Homo sapiens: one gene and its partners. The protein of the gene in region 1 interacts with the protein of each later gene in a pairwise test. Each region holds a gene or a part of one and is shown in the gene's direction. Other genes may lie near its edges.

Region 1 (3,659 bases):
CCCTGCGTTTCCACCTCTCTCTCCCCTAATCTTAGCTGTTTTCACCCTTTCCCCACAGCATTGCCTTGACAGTTCCTCAGTGTCCCATCCCCTCTTCCCATGGACAACACCACAAACCTGCGCACACGGCCTGTTATTATTCCTCCTGTTTCACCTGTGTCCATTCTGTCTCATAAAGGACACTGTAGGCTCTGAACAGCTAAGGCCTTTCTTATTCTTTTGTCCCATGGAAAATAATCCCTCCAGATAGCAATACCAGGAATAGTGCCTTTTCTAACCCACTGGTTTCCTTTTGAGCTTACAGCCACCAAATCTTATATCTGTTTGTTTCTGTTCCCCTCTCTGCATTGACTGCTAGAGAGATCAGAGTCAAGCAGGAGGTTACATCTAGCTGGGGCACTGTGCTTTATGCTGGTGTTTCGTGTGCAAATCTCATACCATCTTCATGTTACAGTTGTTCCTTAGTGTCCATGGGGGATTTGTTTCAGAACCCGCAAGGACACCAAAGTCCAGGGATGCTCAAGTCCCTGATATAAAATAGCATTGTGTTTGCATATAATCTACACACATCTTACCATATAATTTTTTTTATTATTTGTATACATTCGTGGGGTACAAGTGTAATTTTGTTACATGGATGTATTGCATAGTGGTCAAAGTCGAGGCTGTGAGTGTATTTATCGTTGGAATAATGTACATTGTACCCGTTCATTCCTGTATACTTTAAGTCATCTCTAGATTACTTATAATAGCTAATACAATGTAAATGCTATGGAAATAGTTGTTATATTGTTAGGGGATAATGACAAGGAAAACACCTATACATGTTCAATACACAGCAATTATTTTTTTCTGAATATTTTTGATCTGCCATTGATTGAATCTATGGATGTGGAACCCACAGATATGGGACCCACAGATGCAGAGGGCCAACTGTGTTTATTTTTTCCAAATTTGTTTCCCTGTTATGACTCTTCTTTATACACATTTTTAAACTCTGTTGTCTTGTATTTCTTTTCTAATCATCTTACGTCCTTTTGGAAACCAAGTGGGGCATAAATAGTACATGTTTGCATTTGAGGCAACACAGAGGCATCGCAGGAGCTGGAGACAGCAAAGTTCAAAGCCAGTCCACCACTTACCTACAGAGTGGCCTTGGGCAAGTTACCTCCATTTTCTGTCTCCATTCTCGAGCCTGTCTAGAGAGAGAATGAACCTGCCTCCCGAGGTGATGGTGCTGTTTTAATGAAATAATGCATGTGAAATGTGAAGTGCCACTGTCCCTGGCATGGAGATGCTGTCCTTAGATATTAGGTCCATCTTGTATCTTCTAGTGTATCTTTAAAAATTAAACTATACTGGCTTCATGCCTGTAATCTCAGCACTTTGGGAGGCCAAGACCGGCAGATCACTTGAGTCCAGGAGTTCAAGACCAACCTGGGCAACATGGTGAAACCCTGTCTCTACAGAAAATACAAAAATTAGTGGGGCTTGGTGGCACGTGCCTGTAGTCCCAGCTGCTTGGGTAGCTGAGGTAGGAGGATCACTTGAGCCCAGGAGGCTGAGGCTACAGTGAGCTGTGATTGCACCAATACCGATCAGCCTGGTATGACAGAGCATGACTCTGTCTCAAAAAAAAAAGGAAAAAAATTAAACTATACTGATAAATATTTCTAAAGTAATTGATGAAAACATATATATGACACTTAGCAGGTGTTGATCAATTCCAGTGCGTGCATGAGCTGCTTTGCACTGTGGCTACAGCACTCAGCAGTTTGCTTAGTGAGTAGATGGCCATAGCTCACTTTAGGTATCTGGAGAATAATGCTCATTCCTGTCTCCAGCTTTGTAAAATTGCCTAATAGACGGAAGGCATTAAAATATGAAGATGGGATTATATCTTATGAAGCTGCTTGGAATGGGTTTTCCCTCTTAACAAATAATTTCTGATCATCCATATCCCTTAAGAACACCGGATTTCTGGGGGCCAGGGAGGTAAGATTCTATCTGACAAAGCCTTCCTGGTGTCAACCACTTGCCATCTGTTGGTCAGTGCTGGCCCTGCTGGGTCTATAGAATGAGCTTCTTTGTCTGACGCTCCTGTTGCCATCCCTTTCTCCATCAGCCTTGTAGCAGTACCTGGGAACCTGCATCCTGTGGAAAGATGGAGGAGCAGATGACATCTTCCAGTCAAGCTCGTAAATACGTGAATGCATTCTCAGCCCGGACGCTGGTCATGTGAGACATTTCCAGAAAAGCATTATGGTTTTCAGAACACTTCAAGTTGACTTGGGATATATCATTCCTCAACATGAAACTTTTCATGAATGGGAGAAGAACCTATTTTTGTTGTGGTACAACAGTTGAGAGCAGCACCAAGTGCATTTAGTTGAATGAAGTCTTCTTGGATTTCACCCAACTAAAAGGATTTTTAAAAATAAATAACAGTCTTACCTAAATTATTAGGTAATGAATTGTAGCCAGTTGTTAATATCTTAATGCAGATTTTTTTAAAAAAAACATAAAATGATTTATCTGTATTTTAAAGGATCCAACAGATCAGTATTTTTTCCTGTGATGGGTTTTTTGAAATTTGACACATTAAAAGGTACTCCAGTATTTCACTTTTCTCGATCACTAAACATATGCATATATTTTTAAAAATCAGTAAAAGCATTACTCTAAGTGTAGACTTAATACCATGTGACATTTAATCCAGATTGTAAATGCTCATTTATGGTTAATGACATTGAAGGTACATTTATTGTACCAAACCATTTTATGAGTTTTCTGTTAGCTTGCTTTAAAAATTATTACTGTAAGAAATAGTTTTATAAAAAATTATATTTTTATTCAGTAATTTAATTTTGTAAATGCCAAATGAAAAACGTTTTTTGCTGCTATGGTCTTAGCCTGTAGACATGCTGCTAGTATCAGAGGGGCAGTAGAGCTTGGACAGAAAGAAAAGAAACTTGGTGTTAGGTAATTGACTATGCACTAGTATTTCAGACTTTTTAATTTTATATATATATACATTTTTTTTCCTTCTGCAATACATTTGAAAACTTGTTTGGGAGACTCTGCATTTTTTATTGTGGTTTTTTTGTTATTGTTGGTTTATACAAGCATGCGTTGCACTTCTTTTTTGGGAGATGTGTGTTGTTGATGTTCTATGTTTTGTTTTGAGTGTAGCCTGACTGTTTTATAATTTGGGAGTTCTGCATTTGATCCGCATCCCCTGTGGTTTCTAAGTGTATGGTCTCAGAACTGTTGCATGGATCCTGTGTTTGCAACTGGGGAGACAGAAACTGTGGTTGATAGCCAGTCACTGCCTTAAGAACATTTGATGCAAGATGGCCAGCACTGAACTTTTGAGATATGACGGTGTACTTACTGCCTTGTAGCAAAATAAAGATGTGCCCTTATTTTACCTACTTTTGTTTTCTCTCTTATTTGTCACTATGGACAACAGTTACACTTTAAAGAAAATGGAGCAGACTCAAGGCACTTTCCTCTAATAATTGCACACCATATGCACTTCGTGTGAAGAAGCCAGGAATCATTACAATGGAAAAGAAAGAACAAGCAAACTGAGTTAAATAGTTCACAAACAATCACATGGACAATGGGGAGGAATCTTCCAGAATGCATCAGTCAGG
Region 2 (3,659 bases), on another chromosome or scaffold:
CCTGTTCCCAGATTTCTCTGGTGCCTGCTGGTTCCTTCTCTGGGCCAATAAACAAGTGCTGTCTCCAGTAAAGAAGGACTGATGTCCTGCCACCAGGCAAGTAGAGGCTGAGGAAGTGTACCCCTGCCTTTTCAGTGACTTGACTTTAGCAATCCTCAATATTTCGGGGAGAAATATTTTGGCTTCCCTCAGTTTGAAGTGTTAGGTTTTTGTTTCACCCCAGCTATGGAATTCTCCTGGTGAAATGGTCCTGCTGTTCTTCCTCACCTGCACCCAATCAGCCAGCATCACCTGCACTCAATCATGCAGCATCACCTGCACCCAGTCATCCAGCATCACCTGCACACAATCAGCATCACCTGCATCCAATCAGCCAGCATCACCTGCACCCAAGCAATCAGCATCACCTGCACCCAGTCAGCCAGCATCACCTGCACCCAATCAGCCAGCATCACCCACACCCAATCAGCCAGCATCATCTGCACCCAATCAGCCAGCATCACCTGCACCCAATCAATCAGCATCACTTGCACCCAATCAGCCAGCATCATCTGCACCCAATCAGCCAGCATCACCCGCACCCAATCAGCCAGCATCACCTGCACCCAATCAGCATCACCTGCATCCAATCAGCATCACCTGCACCCAATCAGCATCACCTGCATCCAGTCAGCCAGCATCACCTGCACCCAATCAACCAGCATCACCTGCACCCAATCAGCATCACCTGCATCCAATCAGCATCACCTGCACCCAATCAGCAGCACCTGCACCCAGTCAACCAGCACCACCTGCACCCAATCAGCATCACCTGCACACAGCCAGCATCACCTGCACCCAATCAGCCAACATCACCTGCACCCAATCAGCCAACATCGCCTGCACCCAGTCATCTAGCATCACCTGCACCCAGTCATCCAGCATCACCTGCACCCAATCGGCCAGCATCACTTGCATCCAGTCAGCCAGCATCACCTGCACCCAATCAGCATCACCTGCACCCAATCAGCTAACACCTGCACCCAATCAGCCAGCATCACCTGCACCCAATCAGCCAGCATCACCTGCACCCAATCAGCATCACCTGCACCCAATCAGCCAACATCACCTGCACCCAGTCAGCCAGCATCACCTGCACCCAATCAGCTAGCATCACCTGCACGCAGTCAATCAGCATCACCTGCACCCAATCAGCATCACCTGCACCCATTCAGCCAGCATCACCTGCACCCAATCAGCATCACCTGCACCCAATCAGCCAGCAACACCTGCACCCAGCCAGCATCACCTGCACCCAATCAATCAGCATCACCTGCACCCAATCAGCCAGCATCACCTCCACTTGGAAGCTGCCCCAACTTCCCTTTTCCACCAAGCCAAATAATCGCCCACCTCTACTTCTGTGGCATCCTTTGCATGCTACTAATCAGTGTCTTCATTGTCCTGAACTGCCCCCCAACACACACCCAGTCCATGAGCTGACAGTTCTCTAAAACTCCTGAGCCACTATAGTCTCTAGCACAGTATAGTGTAGGCTTCCAAAACTGGCAGCAAACACTTGTTAATTAATTGCATGAAGGGTTTCAAGTCTATAGATATCCCACATCGTGTGTTATAGATATCCCACTTCATTTTATCTAACAGATACTTAGGCAGAGTTTACTATGTGCTGGGCTCTGTTCAAAATAAGTACTACTATCCCCATTTTTCAAGGAAAATCTAAAGCATACAGAGGTCAATGCACCTCTGCTCACCCAGCCAGATAATAGAGGCAGGATTCAAATCCTAGAAGCCTGCTCTTAGAGACAGCACTCATAACCATTACATTGAGCTACCTCTCACCATTGGGCTATCTGGATTCTCCCTTTGTGATGTTAAATTATGGAATTAAATCAAGATATCTTGAAGGGTGTTTGCTAAATTGTTAGGCGTGATTACCTCTGGTGATGGGATTTCAGAGGATTGCAACTTCTTTACTCTTTACTTTTAACTACTATTTATATTTTACTAACTAAATATTAGCTTTATCCTTGCTGGTTAATTCTAAATGTTACTACTTTTGCCCAACAGGTAGGCTTTACATTTTCACTGTTTGCCTATGTATTGGTCTGTTCTCACACTGCTAATAAAGATATACTTGAGACTGGGTAATTTATAAAGGAAAGAGGTTTAATGGGCTCACAGTTCCACATGGCTGGAGAGGCCACACAATCATGGTGGAAGGTGAAAGAGGAGCAAAGTCATGTCTTATATGGTGGCAGGCAAGAGAGCATGTGCAGGGGAACTACCCTTTATAAAACCATCAGATCTTGTGAGACTTCACTATTATGAAAACGGCATGGGAAAGACCCACCGCCATGATTCAGTTACCTCCTACCAGGTCCCTCCCACAACACATGGGAATTATGGTAGCTATAATTCAATATGAGATTTGGGTGGGGACACAGCCAAACCATATCAGCTTACAAGCTGTTACACAGATGACCGCTTAGCAAAACAGGTAAAATCTTTGAATTAGCGAGATTGTGCTAAGGCAGAGTCTAGCTTATAATCATAGGCATTTGGTTCTGATTGCAGTTACATCATGCTGATGACAGCTTCCTGGTCCTCACCACAGATGGAATTAACTTCATGGTGAATAGTCAAGAGATTTGTGACTTTGTCAATCAGTGCCATGATCCCAACGAAGCAGCCCATGCGGTGACTGAACAGGTGACCCAGAGCTTCTGCCTGAAAAGTCCCAAGGAGAAGGAAGGAAAGGACAGTCCAGGCATTGTGTTTTAGCTTTTGAGTGTTGCAGTGAATTTTACACTTGATTCCATAATATTTCCAATTATAAAATTTTTATTTCCCCAAGTTAAAATTTTAATATGCCAAGGAAATGTGCTTTGTTTATTCTTTGGCTTTGTATATACCTTGAAATGATAGTAACAGCAATAGTAAATTATAATAGTAAACTAATATTCACTTGCTATGTGTCAGACAATATTCATATGTATTAGCTCATTACTGTATGTATTGTACAGTATGTACAGTTACATATATTGTAATCATCACAATAACCCTATTAGGTTGGAGCTATTATTGTCCTTTTTCACAGATGAGGAAAACAGGTACAGAGGCTACAGAGTTAATCACTGAAGGTCATAAAACTATTAAATTGCAGAACTGGACTTCAAACCCAGACAACTAGGTTCCCAAGTCCAACCACTTGACCGTTAAACTAGAGTGCTCCAAGCAAATATCCAATTTGAAGATATAGCATAGTCACCTTCTGGTTATTCAGAATGGGTGTGTGGAGAAGATAAACCAAAATACCAAAAGGCATAGGGATGAGGTTGTGTGTCAGTCAGAACTAAAATTAAAAGAAAGCTGGGTAATATCCAGTAAAGAAAACATAAACTATGCTTCGTATTATTTAAAATATTAGAGGCATGTTTTAATTCAACAGCTATTTTTGCATTTCCCAAATTAAGATAATAGACCTTACTTTAAAAGTATTATTTGCTTAGATGGGCAAACATGATTATAATATATGAATTATTCATTTGGTTACTGCCTTCACCCGTGCTAAACAGGGTATTCATGAAATTGAGGAAATAGGCCCAATTTCATGGATGAACACTTCTTTCCTAATTTCAGCTGCCTGTCTTGCAGAT
Region 3 (3,659 bases), on another chromosome or scaffold:
GAATCCCAGCACTTTGGGAGGCCGAGGCAGGAGGATCACTTGAGCCCAGGAGTTTGAAACCAGCCTGGGCAACATAGCGAGCCCCCCGTCTCTACAAAAAATTACATGATTAGCTGGGGGGAGGTGCCATGCACTTGGTTTCAAGCTACCCAGAAAGCTGAGGCAGGAGGATCACTTGAGCCCAGGAGGTCAATGTTGCAGTGAGCTATGATCGCAACACTGCACTCTCCAACCTTGACAACAGAGCAAGACTCCTACTTTCTGAAAATATTAGAAGTCAAGATCTGAGCTTTAGTGTATTTGCTTCTAAGATCTTTCAGTGGTCAGGGCTTAGTTACATTTATGTACATACATATGCTCATTTATGTACATACATGTGCATATACGCATGGAAAAATAAACACACAAGAACAGCTAGTAAAACACTGAAAACTGTAAAAGTGGACTAGTCCTACCAGATGTTGAACTGTGTATTACAAAGTCTATATAATTAAAACAGTATATTACTGGTACATGAATCAAAGTCCAAAACTAGATCCAATATCAGTAAGATTATCAATAAACATAGTTTAAAAGATAGGAAATACCCTCTAAAATGCTATAAAAAGTCCTTTACTTTTTACCTTGAAATTAATCTATCATATCTTCTTTAGGTTTGCAATGAGAATTCCCTCTTCAAAAGTCTTTCTCGCTACCTGGTACGTCGAAAGGATCCAGAATTGTGGGGCAGCGTGCTGCTGGAAAGCAATCCTTACAGGAGACCCCTAATTGACCAGGTAACATTGGCAAATGTGTTTATGGCTGTCAGTAAAAATTATACATTTTTAACTATGAATACAATCCTTTCCCTCATCATGTACTCAAATGGATCATATATAACTATGAGAGAAAGCAATACAAAGTAGAAGAAAATTAAAATTTATATATATTCAATTTACATTCATTTGTATATAATGAATGTAAATTGATTATATACATTATATACAAATGAATGTACATTTATATAAGTATAAATATGTATATAACATACATTAAGAAAAATAAGCCATGTGCGGTGGCTCACGCCTGTAATTCCAGCACTTTGGGAGGCCGAGGTGGGTGGATCACCTGAAGTCAGGAGTTCGAGACCAGCCTGGCCAACGTAGTAAAACCCCATCTCTACTAAAAATACAAAAATTAGCCAGGTGCATGTAATCCCAGCTACTCGGCAGGAAAATCGCTTGAACCCGGGAGGTGGAGGTTGCAGTAAGCCGAGATCACGCCATTGCACTCCAGCCTGGGTGATAAGAGCAAGACTGTCTCAAAAAAACAAAAAGAAAAAAGAAAAAGAAAATACATCCCAAAAGACCTGACTTAATTATATAAAACTCTCTTGGTTCATCATAGTTTAAAAGGAAAATAACAAACTAAACATTAAAGATTGCTATTATTAACACTTAAGTGGCTAAATTGATTGGAAACTTCAAGATAATAAGTCAGAAAAATATAAGGATAAGAGAAAATACAAAAGACCAAGTGCATCAGTGTTATATCTTACTAATAAGAAGTATAGAACTGCAAATGAGATGGGGTTTTATACCTAAATAAAATAGACAACATATTTTAAAAGTTCTAAAAATAGAAGAGTTGTTATAATGAGTCTTAAATTCTCCTGAGATAAGTATAAATAAAATATTTTGGAAACGAATAGGTTGAAGGCTATTAATATTTCATTCCTTTCCTAGGAAGCACTTCTAAGCAACATTCCCAAGTAGTTACAAAGCTTCCTAGGGGAAGGTTGTGGGGGTGGGGGCGATGGTTGGAAATCATTGCAGCATCTAGAAAACCAAGCAAATAGCCAAAACCAGACGAATTACCGATATTTTAATTCCACATCTGTGTAGCTGAATTTTGAATTATGTGTAGCCATTAAAGTGATAATGATGATTGCTAGCCTGGATAATGTTTTAATCAGGGAAAAGATAGAAATTATATAATTAGAGTAATTTTTCAACACAATTATACATATTGTATAGATTTGTGTAGAAAGACCTCTCTATGTAAATTTAAAGGTCTTTTTCCTACTTCATTCTTTTCTGCCTATTTCAAGTTTTCTAATGAGAGGCCAACTTACGCTTTTTTAAAACCAACTTGATTCTCAGTACTTATGTCCCATATATCCTCTGTAGGTTGTACAAACAGCTTTGTCTGAGACTCAGGACCCTGAAGAAGTGTCAGTAACTGTAAAGGCTTTCATGACTGCAGACCTTCCTAATGAACTCATTGAACTGCTGGAGAAAATTGTCCTTGATAACTCTGTATTCAGTGAACACAGGTATGCTTTCAGAGGGATCCATTGGCTATTTATAGTCAGTCTTTAATAAATTATGGCCCATCAGTTTTGGGAAGGAACAAAAAGATCAGAGAAAGTTGCCTGAATTCTCACTCTTCTAATATCCTCCCCCCTACCCTACCTCTTGAGACAAAAACCTCTCCGTTAGTCACAGTGGTTATTTTTTATGTCGGATAAACTTAAAATATTGCATTTAAAATATTCTTTTTTTTCTTAAAGGAATCTGCAAAACCTCCTTATCCTCACTGCAATTAAGGCTGACCGTACACGTGTTATGGAGTATATTAACCGCCTGGATAATTATGATGCCCCAGATATTGCCAATATCGCCATCAGCAATGAGCTGTTTGAAGAAGCATTTGCCATTTTCCGGAAATTTGATGTCAATACTTCAGCAGTTCAGGTAAATCTTCAGATTACCTAAGTTGAATTACTAAACACTGTGCTATGAGGGTGGGCCTAATTGGTTGCTACGGCAATAGAGCAGCAATAAAATACTAACAGCTTAAATGTAATTGCTTTGGGTAGGATTGATTTTACTCTAACCCTAATTTCAAACTTGGATACTTAGGTCTTAATTGAGCATATTGGAAACTTGGATCGGGCATATGAGTTTGCTGAACGTTGCAATGAACCTGCGGTCTGGAGTCAACTTGCAAAAGCCCAGTTGCAGAAAGGAATGGTGAAAGAAGCCATTGATTCTTATATCAAAGCAGATGATCCTTCCTCCTACATGGAAGTTGTTCAGGCTGCCAATACTAGTGGTATGACTTCTTACCTTATGTATTGAAACCTCATAAAATGATTAAGCTAAGCATTAAGATATCTGTCTATTCTGAATTTTAGAAGAGTTGGATACTGCATGGTTTCTTTTAGTGCTCCATCTTAGTCCAGATAAAAAGAGGCTGTATTTTGTGAATTTGTAAGTTCACAAAACTTACAAGTGGGGAAGATGAATCTTCTGTTTTTGAAGTCTCATAAAATCCTGATAGTGCTCTAATCTTAAAACTTTAAGGAAAAAGAATTCATCTATTCATTTGGTCCGTGATAATACAGAAGTGAAATATTGCACGGTTTACATTTGTCATTATCCATGTTTCCTTGAAAAGGAAATGAATGCAATTTTCATTTACTTGGGTGAAAGATAAACTAGGATGTTAGTGTTTGGATATATTTTTTCTTTTTCTATACTTAGGAAACTGGGAAGAACTGGTGAAGTACTTGCAGATGGCCCGTAAGAAGGCTCGAGAGTCCTATGTGGAGACAGAACTGATATTCGCACTGGCTAAAACAAACCGCCTTGCAGAGTTAGAAGAATTTATCAATG

Evidence for each region.
Region 2: the proteins of MYB (region 1) and PPM1K interact in a two-hybrid assay, tested with the Homo sapiens proteins (one large-scale study listed by BioGRID and IntAct).
Region 3: the proteins of MYB (region 1) and CLTC interact in binary tests that used the Homo sapiens proteins (3 or more experiments, as listed by UniProt).

The regions. Positions count from the first base shown.
Region 1 is NC_000006.12:135,215,739-135,219,397, forward strand, and holds the end of MYB (transcriptional activator Myb), read left to right. Parts: intron 1-1,142; exon of another isoform or gene 1,143-2,125; coding exon 2,126-2,242; 3' UTR 2,243-3,434; downstream 3,435-3,659. UniProt on the Homo sapiens protein: Transcriptional activator; DNA-binding protein that specifically recognize the sequence 5'-YAAC[GT]G-3'. Plays an important role in the control of proliferation and differentiation of hematopoietic progenitor cells.
Region 2 is NC_000004.12:88,264,054-88,267,712, reverse strand, and holds part of PPM1K (protein phosphatase Mn(2+)-dependent 1K), read left to right. Parts: intron 1-2,577; coding exon 2,578-2,712; intron 2,713-3,659. UniProt on the Homo sapiens protein: Serine/threonine-protein phosphatase component of macronutrients metabolism.
Region 3 is NC_000017.11:59,678,744-59,682,402, forward strand, and holds part of CLTC (clathrin heavy chain 1), read left to right. Parts: intron 1-653; coding exon 654-776; intron 777-2,168; coding exon 2,169-2,314; intron 2,315-2,551; coding exon 2,552-2,735; intron 2,736-2,903; coding exon 2,904-3,096; intron 3,097-3,527; coding exon 3,528-3,659. UniProt on the Homo sapiens protein: Clathrin is the major protein of the polyhedral coat of coated pits and vesicles. Two different adapter protein complexes link the clathrin lattice either to the plasma membrane or to the trans-Golgi network.